Regions from separate parts of the Homo sapiens genome. Here all the other regions are linked to region 1. Evidence: fine-mapped expression QTL. A gene starts in region 1. Each other region holds a variant in brackets. All regions are shown on one strand. Distances are from middle to middle.

The links.
Region 2: its variant is fine-mapped to the expression of INSR in lung (GTEx, PIP above 0.99).
Region 3: its variant is fine-mapped to the expression of INSR in blood mononuclear cells (TOPMed, PIP 0.98). The same link has a PIP of 0.9 or more in whole blood.

What each region holds. Positions count from the first base shown.
Region 1 is chr19:7,288,215-7,298,556 of GRCh38, forward strand. INSR (insulin receptor) reads right to left here and starts at 6,200. Exons shown (of 22, transcript NM_000208.4): 1 at 5,578-6,200. The coding sequence starts at 5,677. RefSeq lists enhancers at 238-739, 4,642-5,400 and silencers at 5,382-5,441, 5,492-5,631, 5,772-6,051, 6,072-6,461, 6,602-6,781.
Region 2 is chr19:7,104,944-7,115,285 of GRCh38, forward strand. INSR (insulin receptor) reads right to left here. Exons shown (of 22, transcript NM_000208.4): 22 at 7,322-10,342. Among named protein-coding and RNA genes, the nearest start is that of ZNF557, 40 kb to the left of the region's middle. RefSeq lists an enhancer at 4,793-5,312 and a silencer at 8,422-8,622. The variant A/G (reference allele first, on the strand shown) is at 5,910.
Region 3 is chr19:7,178,601-7,188,942 of GRCh38, forward strand. INSR (insulin receptor) reads right to left here. Exons shown (of 22, transcript NM_000208.4): 3 at 5,716-6,037. Among named protein-coding and RNA genes, the nearest start is that of INSR, 110 kb to the right of the region's middle. RefSeq lists an enhancer at 595-694. The variant C/T (reference allele first, on the strand shown) is at 4,940.

The sequences.
Region 1 (10,342 bases):
AATTAGCCAGGCATGGTGGTGACTGTCTGTGAGCCCAGGTACCCAGGAGGCGGAGGCAAGCAGGTTGCTTGAGGCCAGGAATTCAAGACCAGCATGGGCAACATAGCTAGACTCTGTCTCTACAAATAAATTTTAAAAATTAGCTAGTCATGGTGGTGCCTGCCTGTGATCCTAGTTTCTCAGAAGGCCAAGGCAGGAGGCTCACTTGAGGCCAGGAAATCAAGACCAGCCTGGGCAACATAGTGAGACTCTGTCTCTACAAACAAATTTTTCAATTAGCTGGGCATGGTGGCACCTGCCTGTGATTCCAGCTACTTGGGGAACCTAGGTGGGAGGACTGCTCCAGGCCATGACTTGGAGGCTGCAGTAAGCTAGGACTAAACCTCTGCACTCCAGCCTGGGTGACAGAGCAAAATCCTGTCTCTAAAAAGAAATAAAAATTGGAAAAAAAAAAAAAAAAAAAAAGGGCCGGACACGGTGGCTCATGCCCGTAATCCCAGCACTCTGGGAGGCTGAGGTAGGTGGATCTCTTGAGGTCAGGAGTTTGGGACCAGCCTGGCCAATGGGGTGAAACTCTGTCTCTACTAAAAGTACAAAAACTAGCCAGGCGGGGTGGCACATGCCTGTAATTCCAGCTACTGGAGAGGCTGAGGCAGGACCATTGCTTGAACCCAGGAGACGGAGGTTGTAGTGAGCCAAGATCATGCCATTGCACACCAGCCCGGGTGAAGAAGTGAAAAAAAAAAAAAAAAAAAAGTGAGCTGAGAGAAGATTAAAGGAAACACTGACCCTCTGGGAAGAGAGAGCCAACATCTTAGCCCAGGTAGAAGGAGAAGAGAACAGTAAAACAGAAGAACTTAGGCACAGGTGAGACGGGAGACACAGCCTTCCAGGAGGGGGGACTGGCAATGTCAAACCCAGAGGGGTCAAGTGAGGTGAGGCTGCAGGAGACGCAACTGGGAGATGAGAGATTAACTTCGAGAGCCATCGGTAAAGCAGCGGAGATGCAAGCCAGATGCTGGGGGCAGAACAGTGAGAAAAGAGTGAGATGGAAAGGGCAGGGAGGACTGGCCTGGGGAAGCTGGACAGGGTGGAGGCTGGAGGTCAGTGGTAGGTAATGGGGATTGGGGGGTACTGGGTGTTTAGAGGCTGAAAAAGCACGTGGGTAAATGAAGATTCTTTTTTCTTTTCTTTTTTTTTTTTTTTTTTGAGACAGAGTCTCTCTCTGTTGCCCAGGCTAGAATGCAATGGTGTGATCTCGGCTCACTGCAAGCTCTGCCTCCCAGGTTCAAGCGATTCTCCTGCCTCAGCCTCCCAAGTAGCTAGGATTACAAGGACCCGCCACCACACCTGGCTAATTTTTGCATTTTTAGTAGAGATGGGGTTTCACCATGTTGGCCAGGGTGGTCTCAAACTCCTGACCTCAGGGGATCCGCCCACCTCAGCCTCCCAAGGTGTTGGGATTACAGGCGTGAGCCACTGCACCCGGCCGAGGATTATTGAACAAAGAGAGGAGAAAGAGCAAGAGCCCAGATGGGTAAATGTCTCAGACAGGGAAAAGGTTAACTCCTGCAGAGACGTGCCTGGCAATGTCTGGAGACATTAGTGGTTGTCATGCCTGGGGGGAAGGGGATCCTCCCAGGACCACATGGGTGGAGACCATGGTTCCAGCTCAACACTCTACATACAGGACAGCCCCCACCACCAGGAATGATCCAGCCCCAAATGTCAGCAGTGCCAAGATTGAGAGTTCTGCTTAAACCAAAGAGGAATGGAAGTCAAGGGTAGAGTGGGGTGAGGTGGGGAGCCCTGGGGACTCAGCCCACACCCTGTGGTCTCTATGCATGAATGGGGAAGGGCAAGAAGCAGGTCTCCAGGAGAGAAGCAAAGAATAAGAATAACTGCAGAGGCCAGACACCGTGGCTCATGCCTGTGATCCCAGCACTTCGGGAGGCCAAGGCAGGCAGATCGCTTGAGGCCAGGAGTTTGAGACCAGCCTGGACAAAATAGCAAGACTTCAGCTCTACACATTAAAGTAAAAATTAGCCAGGCAGGGTGGCGTGTGCCTGTGGTCCCAGCTACTACGGAGGCTAAAATAGGAGGATGGCTTGCGTCCAGGAGGTCGAGGCTGCAGTGAGCCATCATTGCCCAACTGCACTCCAGCCTAAGCAACAGAGCAAGACCTCATCTCAAAAAATAATAGATAGCTAGAGAGATAGATACAAAAATCACACTGATTTTCCTCCACCCTTCATCCCAATCAAAATGCCATATTGGGCCCGGAGTGATGGCTCACACCTATAATCCCAGGTCTTTGGAAGGCCGAGGCAGGCAGATCACTTGAGGTCAGAAGTTTGAGACCAGCCTAACCAATATGGCGAAATCCCATCTCTACTAAAAATACAAAAATTAGCCAAGGGTGGTGATACACGACTGTAATCCCAGCTACTCAGGAGGCTGAGGCAGGAGATGCACTTGAACCTGAAAGGCGGAGGTCGCAAAGATCGTGTCACTGCACTCCAGCCCGGGTGACAGAGTGACACCCTGTCTCAAAAAAAAAAAAGAAAAAAAAAAAGGCCAGGTACGGTGGCTCACTCCTGTAATCCCAACACTTTGGGAGGCCGAGGCGGGTGGATCACAAGATCAGGAGGTCGAGACCATCCTGGCTAACACAGCAAAGCCCTGTCTCTACTAAAAATACAAAAAATAAGCCGGTGTTGTGGAACACGCCTGTAATCCCAGCTACTGGGGAGGCTGAGGCAGGAGAATCCCTTGAACCTGGGAGGTGGAGGTTGCAGTGAGCTGAGATCGTGCCACTGCACTCCAGCCTGGGTGACAGAGCAAGACTCCGTCTCAAAAAAAAAAAAGCCATATTGGTTGACATTAGAGATTAATGATCTGAAAAGTTCTTTGCCCCTCCCCAAGCCTTCAAGAGGCATCACAGCCCATTTATTTGACAGGATTTTGTTCACCATCACCCCAATCGTGGGGGGTACGGAGGCTCGGACTCAAAAGAACAAAGATTTGTTAAGAAACCATTGCTCTGCAGCCACACTAGCTAGATTGCAATCCCAGCCCTGCTGCCTGCTGGCCTCAAGCGAAGTTTTCTCACTTGTGAAAAGGGAAGATTAAACCGCACCTCGTGGGGTTTTGCCGTGAGGATTAACTGAGATTATATATGCAAAGCGCATAGAACAGCACCTGCTGAGAGCTTGCTCTTCTAATTCTTAGGAAGGTATTATGCAGAGAATAAGGAACTCCTTAAGATGATAAAGGAGCCCAGTACACCCAGGAACTCCACCACTTGTGCCCCACTGCAGAACAAATATTTACTGAACACCTACTATGTGCCAGGCATCGTTCTGGGCTCTAGAAATGCAACGGTGAACAACAACAAACCATAAACCCCTGCCCATATGGAAGCCATAAATGTGCAAAGAAATGGTAAATCCATTTACTGACCCTGAAAGCCCAGGCACAGATCCACAATTAATTACCAAAGCTACAAGGAACAGAAGAACAGGGAACCACACACACGCACACATAGAATCTGGCATAGTTCGAAACCACTCATCTTGGATTTTCTTTTTATTTATTTATTTATTTTTGAGACAGAGTCTCGCTCTGTCGCCCAGTGGCACGATCTTGGCTCACTGCAAGCTCCGCCTCCCGGGTTTACGCCATTCTCCTGCCTCAGCCTCCGGAATAGCTGGGACTACAGGCGCCCGCCACCACGCCCGGCTAATTTTTTCTATTTTTCAGTAGAGACAGGGTTTTACCGTGTTAGCCAGGATGGTCGTGATCTCCTGAACTGGTGATCCACCCGCCTCGGCCTCCCAAAGTGCTGGGATTACAAGCGTGAGCCACCACGCCCCGCCTTTTTTTTTATTTTTTTGAGACAAAGTCTCGCTCTTTGGCCAGGCTGGAGTGCAGTGGTGCCATCTGAGCTCACAGCAACCTCCTCCTCCCGGGTTCAAGCAATTGTCCCGCCTCAGCCTCCCAAGTAGCTGGGACTACAGGCGAACGCCACCAAACCCAGGTAATTTTTGTATTTTGAGCAGAGAAGGGAGTTTCACCATGTTGGCCAGGATGGTCTCCATCTCCTGACCTCGTGATCCGCCCGCCTCAGCCTCCCAAAATGCTGAGATTACAGGCTTGAGCCACCGCAGCTGGCCAGATTTTCTTAACAAGAACTCCAACTAACCGCCACCCTTCATTGAGCACCTACTGTCTCCCAGGCACCTGGGGGCGGGGCTGGGGGGGGGTGGGCCCGGGGCTTTTAGACATTATGTGATTGACAGAGTCGACTCAGCAAACCCGGTTGGTCCACTCTAGCACCTGATTTTACATGCACCCGTTTCCCCATCAATACATTTAAGAGCTTCAATTCCTTCCCTCCCTGACCCCTTCCTCATCACGACTGATTTCCTTTTATGGAGAAATCTGAAACAGTAACCCAACAGATATTTTTAAAGCAGGGCCTCAGACCCCACAGTGGGAAACCCAGGCTATATTCCTTAAATGATTGCGCCATCTTCATCTTACAACCCCAAAGGTGCCTATTGTCAAGCCCAAGGAAGATGCTGCCCACACGTGGGAGAGGGGCCCATGGGGTCAGGGGGAACGAAAGGCTCACTCAAGGTCAAAGGCTCCTTCATGAAGCGCAGGGCTGAGGGGAGAGGAGGGGTCAAGGAGACAGCAGACAAGGGACAGTAGTCCAGATTCTTGGGCAGAACGGGACACACAGAGGCTCAAGTCCTGGCTCTGGCACTGACTTTAGGGCAAGGGAGTTATGCGTCCTACATGAGCCTCAGTTTACTCCTCTGTGAAATGGGTGCATAACTGTATCTGCCTCCGGGGGCCACTGTGACAGTCCAGAGAGATAAGATAGACTAGGCTGTGGCGTGCGGTGATACCAATTACAATAAATAGGGTAAAAAACCGCCACTACTTCTGCTACAATTGCTGCTGTTGCTAAGGCTTTAGAATTTGCCTCCGGACATCTGGAAACAGAACCCAAAAGGGTAAACATGGACCTAGAGTCCGGGGTGGCCACGGGCCTAGATCCAAGGTAGTTGGGTAGAGGGGGGCTCTGCAGTCCCTGACCCCAGGCAGCGTCACCCACCGGTGAGGCACTCAGGGCGCTTGGCTCTACCTACACCATATGCGCTCGGGGGACTTGGCTGTTCGGGGCTGTCCAGACCCAGTGACCCCACTTCCCGGCCGCGACCCAAAGATGACGCGTGTCGTGTCTCCGGAGCGACTTGGGCTCGGAGGGGCCGGGGCACGGGTCGGAGGCGCGCTCCAGAGAGGAGCCCGCGGCGGGGCGGGCACCGGGGCAAGGTTCCTCGGGCTCAGGTCGGGCACGCAGGGCGCGGAGGCGCGAGCCCGGGCGGGCAAAGGCCAAGGTCAGAGGCTTCCCGCTCCCCCTACGCGATGCAGGAGCTACCGTCCTGGCCACCGCCCCCCGCCCCTGGGGAGGGTTCTCAGTCCACAAGCGGGGGCTCGATTTTGGCTTGGGTGGGGTCCTCTCCCCATCGCGGCGCTCCCCGCCCACGCCCGCGCCCCCAGACTCACCCTCTCCGGGGTACAGGTGGCCCGCGGCGCCCAGTAGCAGCGCGGCCACCGCCACCAGCAGCGGCGCGGCCGCCGCCCCCCGCCGGCCCCCGGTGGCCATGGCTGCGGGAGCGCGGGGTCTCCTCGGATCAGAGCGCGCGGCGCTGGCCCGCGGGGGTCATGCTCCGAGGCGGCCACCCAAGAGGCGCTGGGGGCCGCGCGTCCTTCTCTTCCACGCCCGCGACCCGCGGGCCGCAGCCCCCCTGCCGGGGAGGGCCCAGAGGCAGCCCCGGGAAGGGCGCGCGCGGCTTCGCCAGCTACAAATACTGAGCGGAGGCCCTTGCGGTGGTGGCCCCGACCCCCCGGCCGCTGCGGCCCGGGCCCCGTCCCAGGATCTCGGGGCCCGGAGCTCCGCGCTGCGCCCGGGACTGTCTCTCGGCTCTCGGCCCCGCGCGCTCTGGGTCGCGATCTGCGGGCTCCGGGACAGAGGGACGCGCGGACCGACGGACTAGCTGACTGGCGGGCGGGCACCTGGGCTGGCGGGTGGCGGGCGGGCGGCGGGAGAGAGGGCTGCTCGGGCCCGTAAACAACGCGGCCCGTCAGCTGGGCCCCGTGCGGGCCGCGGGAAAAGGCGGCGCGGATCTGGCCTAGGAAGGGACTCTGCGCCCGGGAGAGGCCCAGGAGAGGGAGGGAAAGCTTGCAGGGGAGGGAGGTGCCGCCCGGCCCCGCCCCGCCCCGCCCGCCTCCCCGCCTCCCTGTGCCGGGCCCCGCGCGGGAGGCCCTGGGCGCGCCGGGACCGAGGGCGCGCCCCAGATCCGCGCGCCCTACAGCCCCGAGTCTCCTCCAGTTTCAGACCCCCGGAGGCGCCCCACAGGCCCGACGCAGCGGCACAGATCCTTTCTCTACCATTTTGCTATTTTGTTCATAGTGGGCTTTGGAGGATTCCTGTTGATTTTTTAAAAAATACTGCATTAAAATGTTTATTTTGGTGACTCGAGGTGGTTTTGGTTTCTTTCTTTTTTTTTTTTTTTCACTCCCTTAAATTTTGCACCCCAGGCGAGTAGTGTCTCACTCGCCTTTCCTCAGTCCGGGCCTGGCCAGCGACACTCGTCCCAGAGCGCGTGGGCGCCCCCAGATGTCCCGCCCGCGAGTGCGCCCCGGCCCAGGGGCGAGACCCAAGCCAGGCCCCTGGGGACAGCCACGTGCCCGCGTGCCCAGTGCGCTCCCTGTGTTCAAGTTGGAGAAATGACACCTGGAAAAATGTGCAGACGCTTCTGAAAGGGCAAAGACGACGCCAAAGAAGACGCCGGAGACCTCGAATAGGGCGCAGGTGGACATCTCTGATTTTCAGCAGACCAGCCTGTATGTGTCTGAAGTCTAGCAACGACATTCACCAACAAGGCGGGACAGCGGTTCCACCTACCTTACTGCAGGAGAGGAAGGGGCTTTCAGTATAGGAAAGCCAGAACTCAATGGGAGGAGGGTTCCTCCACCCCTCACTCCTGTGTGGTCTTGGACCAGGGACTTTTCTGTCTCTGGGCCAGTTTCACTTGTGTAATGGGTTTAATAATACCTGCATGCCAGTTCTGGGGAGGTACCCGGGAAAGAAAACTTAAGAAAGCGCCCAGCACAACCCTAGACCCAAGGCATTCATTCTTCTTTCATTCAATAAACAGTTTGCTAGGAGCTGGACCCACTGTTCATGCAACAGGCCAAACCTATTCCTGCCTCTGGGCCTTTGCCCCAGCATTTCCCTTGCCCGTAACACTCCAGGATGGCTTCATCTCTGAAGTGCCATCCCTAACCATATTTTTGCAAATCCTCCCCCCAGTTCCGTTTCCTTCTCTCTCTCTCTCTCTCTGTTTTTTTTTTTTTTTTTTTTTTTTTTTTTTTTTTTTTTTTTTTAGATGGAGTTTTTCTCTGTTGCCCAGGCTGGAGTGCAATGGCCAGATCTCAGTTCACTGCAACATCACCTGCCTGGGTTCAAGTGATTCTCCTGCCTCAACCTCCCAAGTAACTTGGATTACAGGCATGCGCCAGCACACCCAGCTAATTTTCTGTATTTTTAGTAGAGACAGGATTTCACCATGTTGGCCTGGCCGGTCTCAAACTCCTGACCTCAGGTGATCCACCGGCCTTGGCCTCCCAAAGTGCTGGGATTACAGGCCTGAGCCACTGCGCCTGGCCCCTTCTCTCTCATTTTCATAGCATGTTTACCCCACTACCTGCAATTGTTTGTTTTTTTTTTTTCTTTTCTTTCTTTTTTTTTCCTTTTGACAGAATCTTGCTGTCACCCAGGCAGGAATGCAGTGGTGCAATCCTAGCTTACTGCAGCCTTGAACTCCTGGCCTCAAGCAATCCTCCTGCCTTGGCCTCCCAAGGTGCTAGGATTACAGGCATGCGCCACCATGATTGGCCTTGAAATTCTTATTCGTTTTCTGTGTCTTCTCCCCTTCCCGTGAAGGCGGAAATCTTTTCGGTCTTGTTTCACTGCTTAAACCCAGTGCCTGACAAATCTGTTGCTTAATAAATATTTGTTGAGTGGGAGAATCAACAAGCAATAAGTAATAGGGGATTTTTCAGTGAGCAAAATAAACATGACCCATTTCCTTATGGAGTTCACAACTGAGCCAGGGAGAGAGCCCTTAAAATAATTGAGTGTGTAATGAGCTGAGGGAAATGGGAGGTGCATAGGGAGGGGTTTGCTGAGGACATGGGGTTTTTTGTTTGTTTGTTTTTTGATGGATCTTACTCTGTTGCCCAGGCTGGAGTGCAGTGGCACGATCTTGGCTCACTGCAACCTCCGCCTCCCAGGTTCAAGCAATTCTCCTGCCTCAGCCTCCAGAGTAGCTGGGATTACAGGTGCATGCCACCACGCCTGCCTAATTTTTGTATTTTTAGTAGAGGCAGGGTTTCACCATATTGGACAGGCTGGTCTTGAACTCCTGACCTCAAGAGATCTGCCTGTCTCGGTCTCCCTAATTGCTGGGATTACAGACGCGTGAGCCACTGCACCTGACTGAGGATGTGATTTTGAGCTTAAGTCTGAAAATGAAGAGGAGCCATCCTAGGGAAGCCATAGGGATGTGTTTCAGGTGGGGGAAGGCATGAGCAAAGGCCCAGAGGAGAGTGGGCAAGGCATTCTTGCAACTGAACCAGGCATTCACTGTAGCTGCAGAAAAGAAAGAGGAGAAAGTGAAGCCATGGGTGAGAACTGCAGTGGGCCCTTGAACATGAGTTTGAACCGTGCACATCTTTTTTTTTTTTTTTTTTGAGGCAGAGTCTCGCTCTGTCACCCTGGCTGGAGTGCAGTGGAGCAATCTCAGCTCACTGCAATCTCCACCTCCAGGGTTCAAGCTATTCTCCTGCCTCAGCTTCCCAAGTATCTGGGACTACAGGCACACGCCACCTCACCCGGTTAATTTTTGTATTTTTAGTACAGACGGGATTTTACCATGTTGGCCAGGCTGGTATCGAACTCCTGACCTCAGCTGATCTGATCAGCCTCCCAAAGTGAGGTCATCTTTAAACAGAATGTTTTTCAATAAATATATTGGAAACATTTTTAGAGATTTGCAATAGTTTGAAAAGACTTGCAGATGAACTTGGTAGCCAAGAAATATTAAAAAAAAATTAGGTATGTCATGAATGCATAAAATATATGTAGATACTAGTCTGTTTTATTATTTTTGTTATTATTTTCTTTTAGAGACAGGGTCTTGCTCTGTTGCCCAGGCTGGAGAGCAGTGGCCCAATCATGGCTCACTGTAACCTCCAACTCCTGGGTTCAAGCGATCTTCCTGGCAAGCACCAACACGCCCGGCTAATTTTTTTACTTTTTATAGAGACGAGGTCTCACCATGTTGCCCAGGCTGGTCTCTAACTCCTGAACTCAAGTGATCCTCCTGCCTCTACCTCCCACAGTGCCGAGATTACAGGTATAAGCCACCATGTCCAGCCCTATTTTATAATTTGCTAACATAAAATATACACAAATCTGTTACAAAAAGTTAAAATGTATTAAAACGTACACACACACTTACAAACCATACATGGTGTTATTCCAAGTCAAGAGAAATGTAAATAAATGTAAAGATGCAGCATTCAATCATAACTGCATAAAATTAACTATAGAATATATTGTGTTATTGTAACAATTTCATAGCCACCTCCTGTTGCTACTGGAGTGAGTGCAAGTGTTGCAAGTATCCGCTTTAAATGCCATGTTACATTAATTATCTCCCTGTGGGCAGTTCACCTCTCCAGGAATTTGTGCCCCGGTAAAAAGGGATCTCTTGGCGGTTCCCGCGTATTTTTCACTGTGTTTAGTGCAATACCGCAAACATTGAATAACATCCTGAGACCCATGTAAAGTGCCACTAGTGATGCTGGAAATGCTCCCGAGAAGCAGAGAAAAGTCAGGACAGGACAAGAAAAAGTTGAATTGCTTGCTACGTAACATAAATGGAGCTCTACAGCTGCGGTTGTCTGCTTCAGACAGACAATTCATCTTGTAAACAAATTTATGGCATTGATAAATATTGTAGCGTTCTGTAACTGTAAATGTATTTTCTCTTCCTTGTGATTTTCTTTTTCTTTTTCTTTTTTTCTTCTTTTTGGAGACAGGGTTTCACTCTGCTGCCCAGACTGGAGTGCAGTGGCACCATCAGGGCTCACTGCAGCCTCTACCTCCTGATCTCGGGTGATCCTCCTGCCTCAGCCTCCCAGGGAGCTGGGATTACAGCCACATGACACCATGCCCAGCTGTGATTTTTTAAATAACATT
Region 2 (10,342 bases), 180 kb before region 1:
ATGGAGCAGAGCCAAGGCCAGAATTTGCATTTCCTGGCTCCCAAGTCTGACTGTCTCAGCAACCCACATCCCCATTCTAACCCAGAGCCCAGCCAGAGTTCCTCCTCTGGTTGTGAGGCTGTGGTCTATGAAACCAAAGCCTGTGCCTTGCTTTCTCAGCCTGTCAGGGTCTTACCACTGGATAGGAGCCTTGGATGAAAGGACAGGCAGACAGATAAATTGATGGACAGACAAGAAGAGGGATAGATGATGGATGGATGGATGAATGGATGGATGGATGGATAGGTGGATGGATAAATGGATGGATGGGTGGATGAATGGACAGGTAGGTGGATAGATGATGAATGGATAGACAAGATGGATATACAGACAAATGGGTGGGTGGATGGATAGAAAGGAAGGAAAGAAGGACAGATAGATGGATGGGTGGATGAAGAGAAGGCAATAGACAAACATATAGGAAATTACAAATACAGATAGATAAAAAAAAAAAAGGCCCCAAGAGAAGTAGAGGTAGAAACAGAATGGTAGAAAAGGGGGAGGAGGTCAGAGATATGAGTGGGAGGAGGAAGGTGAAATGAGAGAGAAAGAAAAGCAAAGCCCAAATTATAGTGTGACAGGAAGATTGGGTAGCAGAAATACACAAGCAAAAAAAGAGAAACAAGTGAGACCAAAACTGGAGAAATAACTCAGAGAGAGTGACCAAGAAGGAGAGAAACTAAGGAACACACACAAGGGAAGCAAAGGGAGAGAAGAAAAATAAGACAAGAGTGGGAGGAGGAGAGGGGGAAATAGAGAAAAAAATGGGAAGACAGAAAAGTCCTACATAGAAGGAAAGACAGAGGGAAAGATGGGGTAAGGAGATACAGAAGTAATGTATAAAAGAAATAAAGTAGGTCAGGCGCACCTGTGGTCAGGAGTTCGAGACCAGCCTGGCCAACATGGTGAAACTCCGTCTCTACTAAAAATATAAACAATTAGCTGGGCATAGTGGCAGGTGCCTGTAATCCCAGCTACTCAGAAGGCCGAGGCAGGAGAATCACTTGAACCCTGGAGGGGGAGGTTGCAGTAAGCTGAGATTGTGCCATTGCACTCCAGCCTGAGCAACAAGAGTGAAACTCTGTCTCAAAAAAAAAAAAAAAAAAAAGAAAGAAAGAAAAAGAAAGAAAGAAAGAAAGTGAGGGAACCATGGTGGGTGCAAGAGGGGAGTAGATGGTGAGGATGGAGAGAGAAGGGAAAAAAAGAGGAGAAGCACAAATGAAGAGAGGCAGAAACATGGCTGACCACAAAGGGAAGCACACAGAAGGAGAAAGATTAAGAGAATAGGAGAAAAGAGCAGAAGGCAGATACAGAAAAAGATGGAGGAGAGGATGAAGCAGACTTGAAATAAATAAAACAGAGATAAAAGAGTGGCAAGAAGTAGAAAGTAGGACAGAAACAAGGAGGGAGCAGGGTGATGAAGAAACAATCAAGCAAACAAAAAAAAATCAAAACACAAGGAGAAACAGTGAGATAAATACAGAGAGAGGAAGGGAATTAAGGGGAGAAGTGAAAAGGGGAAGCCAGGGTGGAGGCAGCAAAGAAGAGGCCCACACTGAACAAGATACAGGAAAGAGAGCAGGGAAGAGGGAAAGAGAAGAAAGAGAAGTATTTCTTTCTTCTAGAAGGGTGGAAGAAGGAGGCAGAGATCCAAGGGTAGTAGCCAGCACTGGAAATGATCCTGAGGCATCAGATAATGATGAAGATAATGATGGTGATGATAAGAATGGCCATGATGGCGATGATAGTGATGGTAATGAGGGTGATGGTGATGAGATGGTGATGATGATGATGGTGATGAAGATGGTAAGGATGGTGATGATGATGATGGTGATGGTGATAGGATGGTGATGATGGTGATGGAGATGGTGATGATGGAGATAATGATGATGGTATAGTGATGGTGATGGTGATGGTGATGATGATGGTGATGATGGTGATGATTATGATGGTGATGATGGTGATGATGGTGATGGTAATGATGATGGTGAAGATGGTATGGTGATGGTGATAATGGTGGTGATGATGATGATGGTGATGATGGTGGCGATGGTGATGATGATGGTGATGAAGATGGTGATGATATAATGATGATGAGGGTGATGGTGACGATGGTAATGGTGATGAGGATGGTGATGATACTGATGATAATGATGAAGGTATGGTGATGGTGATGATGGTGATAGTGGTGATGATGTTAATGATGATGGTGATGATGACAGTGATGGAGATGATGATGACGCTATAATGATGATGAGGGTGATGATGGTAATGAAGATGGTGATGATGGTGATGATAGTGATGATGATGATGGCAGTGCTGATGATGGTGATGATGACAGTGATGGAGATGGTGATGATGATATAATGATAAGGGTGATGATGGCGATGGTGATGAGGATGGTGACGGTGATGATAGTGATGATGATGATGATGGTATGGTGACGATGGTGATGACCGTGATAATGATGGTGATGATGATGATGACAGTGATGGATATGGTGATGATAATATAATGATGATGAGGGTGATGGTGATGATGGTGAAGGTGATGAGGATGGTGATGATGGTGATGATGGTGATGATACTGATGATGATGGTATGGTGATGATGGTGATGATACTGACGATGATGGTGATGACGGTGATAATGATGATGGTGATGCTGATGACAGTGATGGAGATGGTAATGATGATATAATGATGAGGGTGATGGTGATCACGATCATGATGGTGATGATGATGATGATGGTGATAATTATGATGGTGATGATGTTAATGCTGGTGGAAGCAACAGCTGACACATACTAAGTGCTTACTGTGTGCCAGGCAACTTCTTTTAACTGAGGTATAATTTACATACAATAAAAGGGATAGGTTTTAAGCGTACAGCTCAGTGAACTGATAAATGCATATACCCATGTATTTGCTACCTCAGTCAAGGTACAGAACATGTCCATCACCCCAGAAAGTTCCCATGTACCCCTTTCACAACCAAGATCCCGTTACCCCCACCATAGGAAACCCATGATCTGGTTTCTGTCACCATCAATTACTTTAGCCATGCCCTGTGTAAGTGCTTTACACACACCACAAATTTATTTTATATCCCGCAACACCCGTAAGGAGCAGGGACCACTGTCATCCCCATACACAGGGAGATTCGTACAACTAATCATAGGAGAGCCATGGTTCAAAATGAGGCAGAGGGCTTCCGGGAGCTGACTTGAGCCACTAAGACAAATATAATATTTTGGGGGTCAGGTGAAGTAACCTTTCCCTCTCACCCTCTTAGAGTCTCTGACTGGGACTGACATAAGACAGATTAACAAGATAAATATACACATTTCATTTAGTTGAGGATTTTTGTTTAGTTTTGGGGACAGTGTCTCACTTTGTCGCCCAGGCTGGAGGACAGTGGCACAATCATAGCTCACTGCAGCCTGCAATTCCTGGGCTCAAGGAGTCCTCCCACTTCAGTCCTCTGAGCAGCTGGGACTACAGGTGTGCACCACTGTGCCTGGCTAATTTGTAAAATTTTTCGTAGAGATAGGGTCTCTCTATGTTGCCCAGGCTGGTCGTGAACTCCTGGCCTCAAGTGATCCTCCTGCCCTGACCTCCCAAAGTGGTAGAATTACAGGCCTGGGTCACTATGCCTGGTCTTTATTTAGTAATTTTTACATGTGCAGGGGAGATTTTGTAAGAAAAACGAAGACCTAAAGAAGCAGTTGGAGCTGAATGCTTATGTACTAGGTTGGACAAAATATAGTATGGTAGTTTCATCTCCTGCTTTCAGGAAGAAAAAGGAAAGTCAGAGTGTCCTTCTTGTTTGCTATTTTTCAAGCACCTTTAACTCAAAATAACCAATGTGCCAAAGTGGCATACTTTGTTGTTGTGAAGTGTTTTTTTTTTTTTTAGACAGAGTCTCGCTCTGTCATCCAGGCTTGAGTGCAGTGGCGTGATCTCGGCTCACTGCAACCTCCGCCTCCCGGGTTCAAGTGATTCTCCTGCCTCCTCCTGAGTTCAAGCGATTCTCCTGCCTCAGCCTCCCAAGTAGCTGGGATTACAGGTGTGCACCACCACACCCAGCTAATATTTGTATTTTTATTAGAGACAGGGTTTCACCATGTTGGCCTGGCTGGTCTCGAACTCCTGACCGCAGGTGATCCGCCTGCCTTGGCCTCCCAAAGTGCTGGGATTACAGGTGTGAGCCACTGTGCCCGGCCAAAAGTGGCATACTTTGGAGTGGCATATTTGGATCCCTTACACAGGCAAAGGCAGAATGGAAGCAAAGTTCCCGTGTTCTTGTCCTGAGTCAGCTGAGTCCAGTGGGGGAAGGGGAAGTTGTTAAAATGCAAGTTCCCAGGCCCTGCCCCATAGATGCTCATGGAGGAGGCCTGGGTGTGGCTTAGACAGACACACCTTTGTTTTTAATAAGTGGGATTCTGATAAGCACCCAAGGCCCAGGAGGAAGCTCCAGGAACCCAGTGCAGACACTCCCCACTCCAGGCCAGGGCGCCAGCTACCCTGCTAAAAGGTGCTGTGATCACTTGGCCAGGGCTTTCAAGGAATCCAAGTGGCTCCTCTGCACAGAGACCACACGGCCGTCCACCCTCCCTGAGACTGATGCCTTCCTTGATGAGCTTTCCTTGGAAGAAAAACATTTTCCATTTTCCAAGAGACTCACATTGAATTTCACAAACCCAGGGAAGCAGAATTTACGCTGCCACCACAGCCGATAAGCAGTAGCATCAATTTCTTGGAGAACAGGGAACTTGGAGGGACTTGGGGATATGGGAATGTCCATCCTGAAGGGAGCATGAGAGATCAATGTTACCTCATTTAATCTTTGCCATGGTCATATAAGGTAAGGTCTATCGTCAATAATAGGAGGGTAGGGCCTCTGTGGGCCATGATCAGCCTGCTAGCTGGATGGCAGAGAACTGGGAGCAGAAAGGAGGAGGGGAGAGAGCTGGAATGACCATTGGGATTCCAGAGCCCAGGGTTAGGACCACCGCCCTTTGTAAAACCAGCCACTTAGCCAGTTAGTTGCTTTGTGTGTCTTCAGGCTAATTTAACAACCCCATACTGCGGAACTCTGGGCCAGAGTTTGGAGGAATGTGAAGAATTCAGACGCAACTTTCATGCAGCCTCTGGAAAGCTCCCAGGATAATGGGGAAACACACACATTCAATAACCTCAACTTTCGATGGCCCAGCTCAGAACACTGCCAGCTGGAGGTAGGTGGTCTGGAGAAATCCAGAGACCGCCTGGAGGGGTTGGGGATTGAGTTCCATTGCCTTTGGGAGGGAGAGAGATTCCACAGCCCACATACTTTGCACTTTAGCTAAGGTCAACCCCTCCACCTGTGCCGTAGATCTCATCGTCACTTGTTTGCTTAAGGACATAGAGCTAGTGATCCCCTGCCTTCATCTCTTTTCCCTCTGATGACTGGATTATCCCTGTCATCATCCATACTGCTATTTCTCCCATCTCAAAAACAAGGAATAATAATAATAATAGGATGGTAAAGTGAGAACTTTACCTTTATATTATTATTAGTAGTAGTAGTAGTAGTATTTTTTTTTTTATTTTTGAGACAGAGTCTCACTCTGTTGCCCAGGCTGGAGTACAGTGGCATGATCTCAGATCACTGCAACCTCTGCCTCCCAGGTTCAAGCGATTCTCCTGCCTCAGCCTCCCGAGTAGCTGGGACTACAGGCGCCCGCCACCACGCCCAGCTAATTTTTGTGTTTTTAGTAGAGACGGGGTTTCACCATGTTGGCCAGGTGATCTCCTGGCCAAGGTCTCGATCTCCTGACCTTGTGATCGGCCCGCCTCAGCCTCCTAAAGTGCTAGGATTACAGGCATG[A/G]GCCACCGCGCCCGGCCCACTTTTATATTATTAAAAAAATATAATAATAATGATAGGAGGGTAAAGGAGTGGAAGATTATTGCAGGATTGGACTCTAGTTGGTTCACATCACCTTTTATCTGCATCCTTGGACAGTCCTCTCCAAAGCTGACTCTGGGTTTGGCCATGGGACTTACTTTGGGCAATGGGACAGTAGCAAATACCACACGAGCAGAAGTTTGGAAAATATTTACATTTGGGGGCTTTTTGTTCCTTCCGACTGGGTATCCCTGCAACCACCACCATATGAACAAGCCTGAGTGAACCTCCTAGAAGACAAGCAATCCTGGCTCTCCCAGCAGAGGCCTCAGCACAGGAGTGAGGCTGTTCCCGGAAGAACCACCCAACCAACACATAGAACTGTAAGAAACAGGCCAGGCACCGTGGCTCATGCCTGCAATCCCAGCACTTTGGGAGGCCGAGGCGGGCAGATCGCTTGAGAACAGTAGTTCGAGACCAGCCTGGGCAACATGGCGAAAACCCGTCTCTACTAAAAATACAAAAATAATCATCATAATGATAATAATAAGGCTGGGTGTGGTGGCTCACACCTGTAATCTCAGCACTTTGGGAGGCTGAGGCGGGCGGATCACCTGAGGTCAGGAGTTTGAGACGAGTCTGGCCAACATGATGAAACTAAAAATACAAAATTAGCTGGGAATGGTGGTACACGCCCGTAATCCCAGCTACTTGGGAGGCTGAGGCAGGAGAATTGCTTGAACCCGGAGACAGCGTTGCAGTGAGCTGAGATTGCACCACTGTCCTCCAGCCTGGGTGACAGAGTGAGACTCCATTTCAAAAAACAAACTAACAAAAACAAAAACAAACAAACAAAAAAAGAAAATAAATAAACAGTTGCTGTTTTAAGCCACTCAAGAAAGACTATTCAAAAGGCTTTCAATCCCATGGTCTAACCCATGGTCACTCACCTGTCCACCCAACCTGGGACAGGTCTCCACTCCCAGGATGACATTGAAAATACTTAACATATGAGTTTCCCGCATGTCAGAATAGAGCAAGATCTTGAAGGTTCATTGGTATTCTCGGAGTGAACCCTTTAGTGGTTGGACCATGGGGAGGTCTGGGAGCCCTTGGGGAAGCGCTTACTTACCAAATGGTATGGAAATAGTGCAATATTTAAACCACCAGTTTGGCCATACAAGTATGTCCCTACGAGTCATCAACTCTGCTGGTAGCAACTATTTAACCTCCCTTTTCATGTGTGGAAGAATCTAGGTGTTTTTCTCCTCTAAAAAAAGGCACCTACATATTCCAAGAGGTTTTCCTTAACACAGCCCAACTCATAGCCACATCCCCCGACCACACGACAGGTCCTTACCGGGACACCACACAAAAACAAGCGTATTCTCAGATAATTTAATCAGAATTTTAATATAAACAGGTCATTATCCCATATTTTACATGCAGAACGATTTCAATATTCCAAAAAAAAAGGCGTCTTCTGTACATGGTGCTACTTGGCTCTTGTAGGAAAACATTGAAAAAATAATAATTGAGCTGTTGGGGGGTTTTGTGTTTCTGAGTTGTTTTCTGCAAAAGCTGCAGCACATTTGATCCTGCGTTGCCAACGCACAGGGCCGAGGCCACCCAGGCACACAAAGGGACGAGGAGAAGCAACTTTCAGGCAAAGTGTAAAGACTAAACAAGCTGTTCCTGAATATGTGCATGGGTGCACACTTATTTTGAGGCTCTTCCTTCCTTCTCCAATGGGACCAAGAGCCCCAGATTTGTGATCTGGTTTTTAACAAGGATTTTCAGTGGCCCGCACCCAGATAGAAATTTGGCTGGTGGCTGGTTCTGGACCTTGACTAGTATCAGAAGGTAAAAGTAAGCTCAAAAAGCCATTGTGTCCCCTCCCCTCACTCCCATTTCTCGGGGACCCTTAAGGAAATATTCACCTTCCATTGCACTCCCTGAAAGTCCACCATGTTCTTTTGTATGTTCTAGGAAAAAAAAAAGTGCTGACCTGTTCTTTTCATTCCCAACCTCACCTCGCATATAAATTAATATTCTGAAGAACATGCTGGAAGATTTTCTGAAGTGACACCCCTCTCTGTGTACCATGTATATAAAATCGGCATTCCCTGTTCCCCATCCTCAACAAAACCATTGTTTCTGAAGAGCCTAAGGTGTCAAGGACTCACCAGGTGACATTCAAAGGACATTTAACCCTAAACTTCCACCCACTGTGAAGGAGAGAAATGATTAGCACTGGGACTACAGCACATCCATTTACCGGATGACCAGCGCAAGTCATATGCTGATGACGCTCCTGCTCTTTCACACGTGTTACAGCAGACTACAAATAAACACCTCCCAATCCAATAAGCACATTTCTTGGTGGACTACCTGCCCTGCTAGGATACAGTGAAAGATCTGTCTGTCAGTTGGTAACATAGTCCCCAGGGTCACAGGATGACCTATGCAGACCCTTGTGTCAGTTCCCACAGCTTCTCTCAATCATCCTCAGCCTATATCCAGACAAGCAGCAGTGCTTCTCTTTCTCACTGCTTCCAATGATGAAACAGCACCTAGGACAGCTCCTAAAACCTGAACATTTTCTGATGCGTATTTGACATCACTGATGCAGAGAGAAAGTGATGTGCTTGGTATTCTCCTCCTGGAAGAAGGAACTCCTGTGTGGCTTTCACTACATTAATGAAAAGGGTTTTAATCATAGTGAGACATCTTTAAGAACAAGCAACAAAAAGTGTTATCCTAAGCTGGTTTTGTTGCTTTTTGTTGTTGTTGTTGCAACTTAACACTACAAACTCCCAGGACAACCGTGTCTTTCTAGGACCAAAGTTTTATTGTTACAAAGTCAACATTTCCTAATGTCAAAGGAGGTTTGCAACCCAATAGCTGTTTGCTCTTTTCACTGTGGCAGTAGAGTCAAATAAATGAAACTGGTGAATCCCATTTGCAAGGGGCAGGCCCAGCACACCCTACCTTTCTCCAGGGCAGGTGGAGAAAGGTGAGTCTGCAAGGGCAGTGCCTAAAAGTACAAGAGCAGCAAGATTTGGGCCCCACTGGTCCTGCCTAGACTCTCACATGGGTTATCAAAGCTGCACAAGGTCCAATAATATCAGCTTGAGGTCAGTCAAACCCCAACACAGAGGTCCAAGGTGTTGTTGCAAAAAAAAAAAAAAAAAAAAAAAAAGCGTTCAGCACATTAATGGGTTTTGGATTGGAATTTCCCTCACATGCTCCCATCCCACTTGGAGAATTTAAAAAGACATTGCATTAGGTGTTTGTGTGTAAGGTGCATCACCAGCCTGAAAGGAGTGGGCATAAACCATCAGGGAGCCCAGGGCACCTTTGTGCTCACTTCAGGGGGATTCCATGGAACAGGTGGGAATGCTTGCTCTGAATCAAAGCCCGTCTTTGCCCCGGCAGCCATCTCTCACCAAAGGAAGGTACACCTTGCTGGGTTACCCCATATATCAGATACATCATGACAGCCTGGAACTTAGTTTATGTTTGGGGAACATAGTGACAATAGATGGAGGATTTTTTTTTAAAGGAAGATTAAATTCAGAGAAGAATATTACCAGCCAGGAAGAAAAGGATCTATGCTCGCATAAAGGCCATACCTTCTCCATCCCAACTCCCTCCCTCAAAATTCTTACTGGTCCCTGGCATTCGAATCAGCTGATACACACGTTCCCTGATTCAGACCGGTTCCAGGTAGAATTCTGAAATCTCAAAGATGTCCATGATTGAATCACATCTTAACAATACACTGAGGTAGACTGTGCTGAAAAAAGAAAATCACTATCCCCCATTCACCTGTTTATTTTTCTTTGATAAAAATTTACATGCGCTCCATTTTTTATGAGAGTGATTTTCAGAGTGATTTTATATATTAAAATAAATACTTTTTCCCCTAATATAAGAAAAACCTTTCTGAATTAGAAAAATGTGAAAATTGCAGCTAGTGTAGTATACAACCACTACAAATTTACTAAGAAGAGAACAAAATACCTAGTTCTACGTGTTTTTTTTTTAAATTTAGGTACAGACCCTCATATTTACAAAATAAATTTGGCAAAAATAATTTCTGTACTCTTGCTTCTTGTACCCAATCACTGAGGCTCCTCAGCAATATTTTTACATGCTGTATTTTCCCGAATCATATAAATAAGATAGCAATAGACAATTGGGATTCATGTCTACCTGTGTTCTTAATCAAGAATTGAGAGGGCTTGGAGGTTGCCATTATGACTCTATCCCATTCTTAAGCCCACAACTCTTAAGAGAAGAAGAAAAGGAAGCAGTCAAAAAGTTGTAAGAAAATGCACTCAGGAATAACGCATGGGCGATGATTTTTTGATGAACCAAAGTGATGAGTTCACTGTGTTCTTTGAGCAGCT
Region 3 (10,342 bases), 110 kb before region 1:
CCCAGCTACTCGGGGGGCTGAGGCAGGAGAATTGTTTGAACCTGGGATGTGGAGGTTGCAGTGAGCTGAGATTGAGCCACTGCACTCCAGCCTGGGTGACAGAGTGAGACTCCGTCTCAAAACAAACAAACAAACAAACAAAAACTCTGGACGCTGAAGCTCAGTAGTACTTCCCAGCTGGTGGACACACCAGTATGTCAAGAGGGTGATACATGCTGTTGCCACGAGGAGGCAATATGGAAATTCTGCATCTAGAACTCTCCCAGATCTTGCCGTATGTGTATCCTTTATAATAAAACTGTAATTGTATAGCAGGGTTTTTAAATTTGAGACAAGATCTTGCTCTGCCACCCGGGCTGGGGTGCACTGGCACAATCTTAGCTCACTGCAGCCTCGAACTCCTGGGCTCAAGCGATCCTCCTGCTTAAGCCCCTCAAGTACCTGGGACTACAGGCATGCACCCCCTCACCTGGCTAATGTTTTTAAATTTTTGTAGAGATGGGATCTCACTATGTTGTCCAGGCTGGTCTCGAACCTCTGGGCTCAAGTGAGCCTCCCACCATGGCCTCCCAAAGTGCTGGGATTACAGGCATGAGCCACCACACCTGGCCAGGTTTATTTTCATTCTGTGAGTTCCTTCTAGTAAATTATGAAACCCAAACAGTTTGTGGGAATCCCCCAATTTAGAGCCAGTTAGTCAGAAGTGTGGGTGGCTGGGGGATCCCCAAGATGCTGCCAGTGTCTGAAGCAAGGGAAATCTCATGGAGGGCTGAGCCTTAAACTTGTGGCGTCTGATGCTAACTTTGGAGGAGGATGGTGTCAGAACGGTGTTGCAAGTACACCCAGGTAGTGGCAGAACAGCTGAGGCAGAAACAAAATACTGACCAAATGTTTGACTTCTTTTATTGCCTCTATTCTTATTATGTGGCAGGCAATGCTCTAAGCCTGGAGTTGGCAAACAGTGGGCTGGGAGCCAAATCCAGTAGGCCACCTGTTTTTGCAAATAATATCCTATTGGAATATGGCCACATTTATTGGTTAGTACATCGTCTAACCCTGCTTTCACGCTGCAAAGGCAGAGTTAAGTAGCTCCAACAGAGACCATATGGCCCTGAGAGCTGAAAATATTTACTATCTGGCCCTTGGCCAACCCCCGTTCTCAGCTGCCGGTATACATGAGTGAACAAAGCAGATAATATGCTTTCCCAGTGGGAAATTATAAATGACCATGAGTTCTTTGCAGCCTCTCCCACCAAGAAGTGGAGTCTATGTTCCCACCTGTTGAATCTGGGCTTGGCCATATGGCTTGCTTTGGCCAATGGAATATTTGCAAACGTGATACAAGCTGAGGCTTGAAAAGCACTTGAACATTGAGGTCTGCCCTTCCTGGCTGCTGGGGTAAGAGACTTATGGAGAGAGACCCCCACTGACCATCAAAGACACAAGAGGCTCCCCTAAACCATCAGCCGTAGCTAAACAGGCCCAGGCCAGACAAACCTTCAGTCAACACATGAAATCATCAGAGCTCCTAAAGGAGTGTTTTAAGCCACTAAGCACTGAGGTGGTTTTGTTACGCAACAAGAGCTAGCTGATACACTCACAAAGCTTATCATCTGGTTGGGGAGAGTGAATAAATTGACAACAAAGGCTAGGTACAGTGGCTCAGGCCCTGTAATCTCAGCACTTTGGGAAGCCAAGGTGGGAGGATCACTTAAACCCAGGAGTTCAAGACGAGCCTGGGGAATATAGCAAGACCCCCAACACTACAGAATTTTTTTTTAGCCAGGTGTGGTGGTGTGTGCCTATATAGTCCCAGCTACTCAGGAGGCTGTGGCAGGAGGATCTCTTGAGCCCAGGGGGTTGAGACCACAGTGAGCCATGTGGGTGCCACTGCACTCTAGCCTGGGTGACAGACCAAGACCTTGTCTCAAAAAAAAAAAAAAAAGACAAAAATATCAGCTAGTGACAAATCGAAGAGTTAAAACTAAATGATGTGACAGAGAGTGCACGGATGATTGACTCAGACGGGAAGGATTTGCCAAGGAGGTGACTTTTAAGCTGCCATCTAGATGACGAGGGGAAAAAGTGGATCATTCTCAAATGCAGGGACAAGCATTATAGGAAGAGGGAACAGCTAATTGAAAGGCACAGAGGAAAGCGGATGTAGCAAGTTGCAGGAAAAGCTCCTGCGGTAACGACCACCACGGCCAGGGGGCACCGGAATGAAATGAGAATGAGAACTGGCCGAGCCCTCCCGATGAGGAGTTTGGATTCTGTCCATTGGTCTTGGGAAGCCACCGGAGGGTTTTAGGGAAGGACATGGCATATGATCAGATGACCACTTTTATTTTTTCTTTTGAGACAGAGTCTCACTCTGTCACCGAGACTGCAGTGCAGTGGCACACTCTCGGCTCACTGCGACCTCCACCTCCCGGGTTCAAGCAATTCTGCTGTCTCAGCCTCCCGAGTAGCTGGGATTACAGGCGCCCACTGTAATCCCACGCCTGGCTAATTTTTGTATTTTTAGTAGAGATGGGGTTTCACCATGTTGGTCAGGCTGGTCTCGAACTCCTGACCTCAGGTGATCCACCCACCTCGGCCTCCCAAAGTGCTGGGGTTATAGGCGTGAGCCACCGCGCCTGGCCCAGGTGGCCACTTTTTACCAGTGTCACTAGAATGGAAGCAGGAGCAAAGAGATTGTTCAAGGGGACTGGGTCAGACCAGACATGATGGTGAAATAGATGGAGGTGTAGACAAATTTGAGACCTCAGCTTAATAGGAAGAAGTGAGAGAGGCCAAGAAGAATCAAGGATTTTAGGTAATTCTCCCCTTCCCAGTGGATACCCCATACGCATTGAAAATTTATTCATCACAAATATCTGGTCCTTCTCATCTCAGGAAGCAGCACTGTGCTATTACATCCCAGCAGGTACTTTGGAACGACAGTAGATGGTGAGACCTTTTTTTTTTTTTTTTTGGAGATGCAGTTTCACTCTTGTCACACTTGCCTGGGGGCTAACGTGCAATGGCGTGATCTCAGCTCACTGCAACCTCTGCCTCCTGGGTTCAAGCAATTCTCATGCCTCAGCCTCCCGAGTAGCTGGGATAACAGGTATGCATCACCATGCCCAGCTAATTTTTTTTTTGTTTTTGTATTTTTAGTAAAGACGGGGTTTCACCGTGGTGGCCAGGCTGACCTTGAACTCCTGCCCTCAGATGATCCGTCCACTTCGGCCTCCCAAAGTGCTGGGATTACAGGCATAAGCCACTGTGCCTGGCCAAGGCCTTTTAACATGGGTTCCCAGAACTCTGCTCTGAAAACATCAAGAACTCCTTCCCAGATAAGCCACCAGAATGGAAGAAAACATCTGGCCCTATTTGATATCAAACCACATTAGAAAATGCCACAGTACGATTAAGTCTTTCATAAGATAAAAAGAAAAGCTTCAGGCCAGGTGCGGTGGCTCATGCCTGTAATCCCAGCACTTTGGGAGGCCGAGGTGGGTGGATCACTTGAGGTCAGGAGTTCAAGACCAGCCTGGCCAACATGATGAAACCCGGTCTCTACTAAAAATACAAGAAAAATTTAGCTGGGTATGGTGACAGATGTCTGTAATCCCAGCTACTTAGAGGCTAAGGCAGGAGAATCACTTGAACCCGGGAGGCTGAGTTGCAGTGAGCCAAGATCGCACCATTGCACTTCAGTCTGGGCAACAAGAATGAAACTCCATCTCAAAAAAACAAAAGCACAAACAAAAAAAAATTGGCCAGGCTTGCTGCCTCACACCTGTAATCCCAGCTACTTGGGAGGCTGAGGCAGGAGAATGGCTTGAACCTGGAAGGCAGAGGTTGCAGTGAGCTGAGATCATGCCACTGCACTCCAGCCTGGGTGACAGAGTGAGGCTCTGTCTCAAAATAAATAAATTAATTAATTAAAAGCTTCAGAAATAAAAATATTAATTTTTTTAAACCTACGCAATAAAATACGGTGACAATGCACCCCCCTCTCCTTTGTTTTCTTCCGTTCAGGAAAGGTCCCAGATACCAAGGATGTGCGGTCAATTTCTCAGGGTTTCTGTTTTAGCATCTCCCGCATCATCAGTGAGAAAATCAAAGGAGGTTGCTATATTTCTCAGGCCATTGTTAAGGTGAGGGAAAAATGCCTTTTATTTAAGGCCAATGTCTTTTAAACAAACATCTTGCCAGAAGATATTAACCCATTTTTTTTATTTCAATTGTGATTTTAAAAAGAAAGAAATGAATCAAAAGGAATATGGTCATTTCCTCAATCTTGGGAATACACTGGCCAAAAAAAAAAAAAAAAACCTAAAACAAAAGTCTGTCTGGTATGAAAAGGTGATTTATAGACCCTTTTGGTCAATAAAGCCAAAAGGTTTTTTTGGTAGGTTTTTATCAACAACGAGCAAAACAAAACATATTGTACTTGCAGGTTTCACAAACACTCAAAGAAAGAGTCATAAGAACTGAAATTACAGCTTGTTTTCCTTCCCGCCCTCTCCACCCAGGGAAATACAATTTCCCACCCCAACACTCTCGCTTGGCTAATTCTCAAGTCTGAAGAGGAAGATACTTTACGTAAGCAGGTCAGCTCAAGGCCTCTTGATGTGTGTCTGTTTCTGATTTGTTTTTGTGTTGTTTTGTGGTGTGTGTGTGTGTGTGTGTGTGTGTGTGTGTGTGTTTTAAAACAAAACATAAAACCTCAATACAAAAACCAGGAAACAGATTTTTGCAACTCAGTTACGGCCCCAAAATAGCTCATGGAAGAAGCTCACAGTACGAACAGAAAGTCTGCGATGTGCGTAGGAAATCTGACTCTGTCGAAGAGAGAAAACCCTGCTATTTCTCACCCAAACGGCAGGAAATGGTTTGATTATACTGTCCTTCAGAGAACAGCAAAGCCCTGAGAATAATGCAGAAG[C/T]GAGTCTCTTCCTCCTGGAGACAGTATGTTCTGGGCTAATCTTGGCACACCACCAGGCTACAGGTCAGGGAAGACACGAAAGACCTTGGTATATCCTTTATGTGACAATGATGAAGCTACATCAGTGAGGACAGGCCACGTGGAGGATTTTAGGGAAAACCAAGGACTCTGTCCTTATTATATTTTCTTGTTCTGAAGCCAACCACAGAAAGCTTAGAACTGAGGTCCACAATGCCAGACTGGGTGCGGTGGCTCACACCTGCAATCACAGCACTTTGAGAGGCCAAGGCAGGTGGACCACCTGAGGTTGGGAGTTCGAGACCAGCCTGACCAACATGGCGAAACCCTGTCTCTATTAAAAATACAAAAATTAGCCGGGCATGGTGGCAGGCACCTGCAGTCCCAGCTGCTTGGGAGGCTGAGGCAGGAAAATCGCTTGAACCCAGGAGGCAGAGGTTGCAGTGAGCCAGGTTCGTGCCACTGCACTCCAGCTTGGGAGTCTTGCGGCAAGACTCCATCTCAAAAAAAAAAAAAAAGAATGGTGGGCACAATGCCAGAAGTATATACTATCTGGTCCTTTAGAGAAAAAGGTAGTCAACTCCCACTCCCAAGCCCAGGACCAAAACAGGGTGCAAAAGTAGCATCTGAGAGCAGAGACCTCACTCATAGCCAATTAACCCTGGGTTTGCACACAGTTTTAACAAGCGGCATCGTCACAACCAACCCCACGTTCCTTCTCCTCTCGGCTGCCCCCCAGACCCACATCCAGAACTCACTTGCTGGAATTCATCGTGTACCCGGAGGGACACTCAGGGATGCACTTGTTGTTGTGAATGACGTACTGGTGGCAGCCCTGCCTCCGCGAGTTCTTGCATTTGTGGTGCAGGTCCTGGCAGAAGCTGAAGTTCACACAGCGCCAGTCCTGGAAGTGGTAGTACGGGGGCGGGCAGGTCTCCACACACCTGCCGTCCAGGTAGAAGTTGCGGCAGGCCACGCACTTGGTGGGGTCGTCGGGCTGAGAACAGTTGCCCAGGCACTCGCTGTGGCAACAGAGGCCTTCGGCGGTGCAGCCGTGTGACTTACAGATGGTCGGGCAAACTGGAGAGAGAGAGAGAGAGAGAGGGAAATAAATAAATAAATAAATAAATAAATAAATAAATAAATAAATGGCTTTGTCCAATTCCTGTCTGCATATGCAGCAATTCTGGATCAGACAGTGAAAGCCAACCAAACACTAACAGTAAAAGCGGCACGTCTACATCATTACCCACATGTCAGACACATCTATTAACTGGTTTAAGCCTCCAAACCATTGGTGAGCTTGTAAATGTTTAACAGCTGCCTGAGGGAGGGGCCCAGGGAGGCCCAGATTTATATAGCATTTGCCGATTTCCATGGTGTAAATATTCCTACCAGTGGTGGATTTCAGGCCACCAACATGAAGTTACTAAACATAAGCTGACAAAAGATACACAGTAGCATTCCTCTAAGTAGTATTTATAAGTATACACAAAATGTATCTACTATTGACACAAAAGTAGTAAATAACCTCAACAGCACAAATAATAGGAAAACATCGTATGATATTAGGAGGTGGTGAGTTTTGAGTATTTGTTACTTTTAAAAAGCTTTGTTAATTTAAAAACTTTTGTTTTTAATGTAATTTGTTTAACTGTAGGTTTATGTAATTTTTATGAATATCTATGTTTAACAAATGGCTCACAAATTGCCTGAAAATTTCACCACTGGCTCCAGCAAGCCAACTCCAGCATGCTGCTGCACCCCACATGTGAAGTAGATACACTGTTAGCTCCTTTATTTTTTTGTTTTACAAATGGGGAAACTGAGGTACAGGGAGGTTAAGTAACTTGCCCCCAAACCACTGATTGCTTCAACAGACATTTGCTTGCACTAATCTAGATACTGTGGCCACTGTGGGGAAAAAAGTGGCTGCAGATCCTGCCTTTGGGAGCACAAGGTCTAATGGAGGAGACATGTTAGTTACTTAAACATGCAAATGTGGCTCGGTGTGGTGGCTCACGCCTGTAATCCTAGCAATTTGGGAGGTCGAGGCGGGTGGATCACCTGAGGTCAGGAGTTTGAGACCAGCCTGGTCAACATGGTGAAACCCTGTCTCTACTAAAAATACAAAAATTAGCTAGGTGTGCTGGTGCATGCCTGTAATCCCAGCTGCTCAGGAGGCTGAGGCACGAGAATCACTTGAATCTGGGAGGTGGAGGCTGCAGTGAGCCATGATCGTGCCACTATACTCCAGCCTGGGCAACAAGTGCAAAATTCTGTCAAAAAAAAAAAAAAAAAAGAGAGAGAGAGACAAAGAGAGAGAGAAAAGGAAGGAAGGAAGGAAAAAAAAAAGGCTGGTTGTGGTGGCTCATGCCTGTAATCCTAGCACTTTGGGAGGCCAAGGTGGGCGGATCACCTGAGGTCAGGAGTTTCAGACCAGCCTGGCCAACATGGTGAAACCCCATCTCTACTGATGATACAAACAATTAGCCGGGTGTGGTGGTGGGCGTCTGTAATCCCAGCTACTCAGGAGGCTGAGGCAGGAGAATCGCTTGAACCTGGGAGGGGAGGTTGCAGGGAGCCGAGATCATGCCACTGCACTCCAGCCTTGGTGACAGAGGGAGACTCTGTCTCAAAACAAAAAATGAAACAAAACAAAAAATAAGAAAGAAAGTTGGGGAGTGTTCTTCACCCCAAATCCCCAGACTGTGATTCTCAGCACAGTGGATCCCACCGGCCAAACTCAGGGAACAGAAGTGGCCCCAGAAGCTACATCCATATATGAACAGCACCATCTGGTCGAAATTTCTGCGATGACGGAAATGTTCTCTATCTGGGCCATCCAACATAGTAGCCACTTCTCCCCTGTGGCTTCTGAATGTGCTTAGTGCAACTAGGAAATCCAATTTTTTTTTTAATTGTGGTAAAATACACATAGCATAAAATTCACCATTGTAATCATGTTTAAATGTATAGTTCAGTGGTATTAAATACTTTTATGTGGCTATGCAACCATCACCACCACCCATCTCCAGAACTTTCTCACCTTAACCAAACTGAAACTCTGCCCCCATGAAACAGTCACACTCATCCTCCTCCCCAACTCCTGGCACCTGCCATTTTACTTTCTTTTTCTTTTCTTTTTTTTTATTTTTATTTTTTGAGATGGAGTCTTGCTTTGTTGCCCAGGCTGGGGTGCAGTGGCGCGATCTCAGCTCACTGTAACCTCTGCCTCCCGGGTTCAAGTGATTCTCCTGCCTCAGCCTCCAGAGTAGCTGGGATTACAGACGCCCACCACCACACCCAGCTAATTTTTGTATTTTTAGTAGAGATGGGGTTTCACCATGTTGGCCGGGCTGGTCTTGAACTCCTAACCTCGTGATCCTCCTGCCTCAGCCTCCCAAAGTGCAGGGATTACAGGTGTGAGCCACTGCGCCCGACATCCCATTTTACTTTCTGTCTCTGTGACTCTGATGACTCTAGGAACCTCATATAAGTGGAATAATATAGGATTTATTCTTTTTTAAAAAATTTATTTTGAGATGGAGTCTCACTCTGTCACTCAGGCTGGAGTGCAGTGACTCGATCTCGGCTCACTGCAACCTCCACCTCCTGGGTTCAAGGAATTCTCCTGCCTCAGCCTCGAGTAGCTGGGATTACAGGTGCCCACCACCACACCCCGCTAATTTTTTTGTATTTTTAGTAGAGACGGGGTTTCACCGTGTTGGCCAGGCTGGTCTCGAACTCCTGACCTCAAGTGATCCACTCACCCTGGCCCCCCAAAGTACTGGAATTACAGGTGTGAGCCACTGTGCCCAGCCTAGCTGCAGTATTTTACATTCCCACCAACAGTGTACCAGGGCTCCAATTTTTACCAAGGAACAAAACTTTTAACTGCATTTCATTTTAATTTCAGTTTAAAATTTTTAAAAAGTTTTACATTGATACAGAATATTTTACACATTTATGGGGTACTTGTGATATTTTGTCATATGGATAAAATGTGTAACGATTTCTTTTTTGGGTGTGTGATGGGGTCTGGCTCTGTCACTTAGGTTCTGGGGTACAGTGACACAGTGACAGTTCACTGCAGCCTCAATCTCCTGGGCTCAGGTGATCCTCCCACCTCGGCCTCTTGGGTAGCTGGAATAATGGACATGCGCCACCACGCCCAGCTAAGTGTTTAATTTTTTGTAGAAATGGGGTCTCACTATGTTGCCCAGGCTGGTCTCGAACTCCTGGCTCAAGCGATCCTCCCACCTCAGCCTCCCAAAGTGCTGAGATTACAAGTATGAGCCACTGTGCCTGACACAATTCCAATGTTTACTAGCCACAGATGACTACCGTCTCCCAGACGAGACAGTTCAGGCATACAGAATAAAAGCCAACTCCCTACAGGCCTTGGGGGGTCTAATCCCTGCCAGTCTTGCTAAATTCTTCTCCCAGGCTGGCCTCCTTTCTGCACCTCCCACCCACACACACCCAGGCTCAGCCCTACCTTAGGACCTTGCACAAGCTGTTCTGGGTGGAGCACCCTGGTCCCTTGTCCCCTTGTGACTTGCTCCTTTGCATCCTTCAGGTCCTTACACAGATCTTCCCTGACTTCCCCAGCAGAAGTCGCCCTTCCTGCTCCATTCATAAGCTAACACATTATCTCATTACATTTTCCTTATGGCATGGATCACTCTTGAAAATTATCTTGGGGCTGGGCGCGGGGGCTCACACCTATAATCCCAGCACTTTGGGAGGCTGAGGTGGGTGGATTATTTGAGGTCAGGAGTTCAAGACCAGCCTGGCCAACATGGTAAAACCCCGACTCTACTAAAAATACAGAAATTAGCTGGGCGTGGTGGTGGGCGCCTGTAATCCCAGCTACTCAGCTACTCAGAAGGCTGAGGCACAAGAATCACTTGAACCTGGGAGGTGGAGGTTGCAGTGAGCTGAGATCCACTGCACTCCAGGCTGGCTGACAGAGTGAGACTCCGTCCAAAAAAAAAAAAAAAACAAGAATATTAGGAAGTTCTAATAGGGCTAAGCACAGTGGCTGATGCTTGTAATCCCAGCACTTTGAGAGGCTGAGGTGGGTGGACCACTTGAGGTCAGGAGTTCAAGACGACCAGCCTGACCAACATGGTGAAACCCGTCTCTACTAAAAATACAAAAATTAGTCGGGTGTGGTGGTGCTTGCCTATAATCCCAGCTACTCGGGAGGCTGAGGCAGTAGAATCGCTTGAACGCAAGAGGAGTTTGCAGTGAGTCAAGATTGTGCCACTGAACTCCAGCCTAGGTGACAGAGCGAGACTCTATCTCAAAAAAAAAAAAAAAAAAAAAAAGGGAGGGGGGATTGTTAATAAGAGTCCCTTCCTTCCTTCTTAAGGCTGT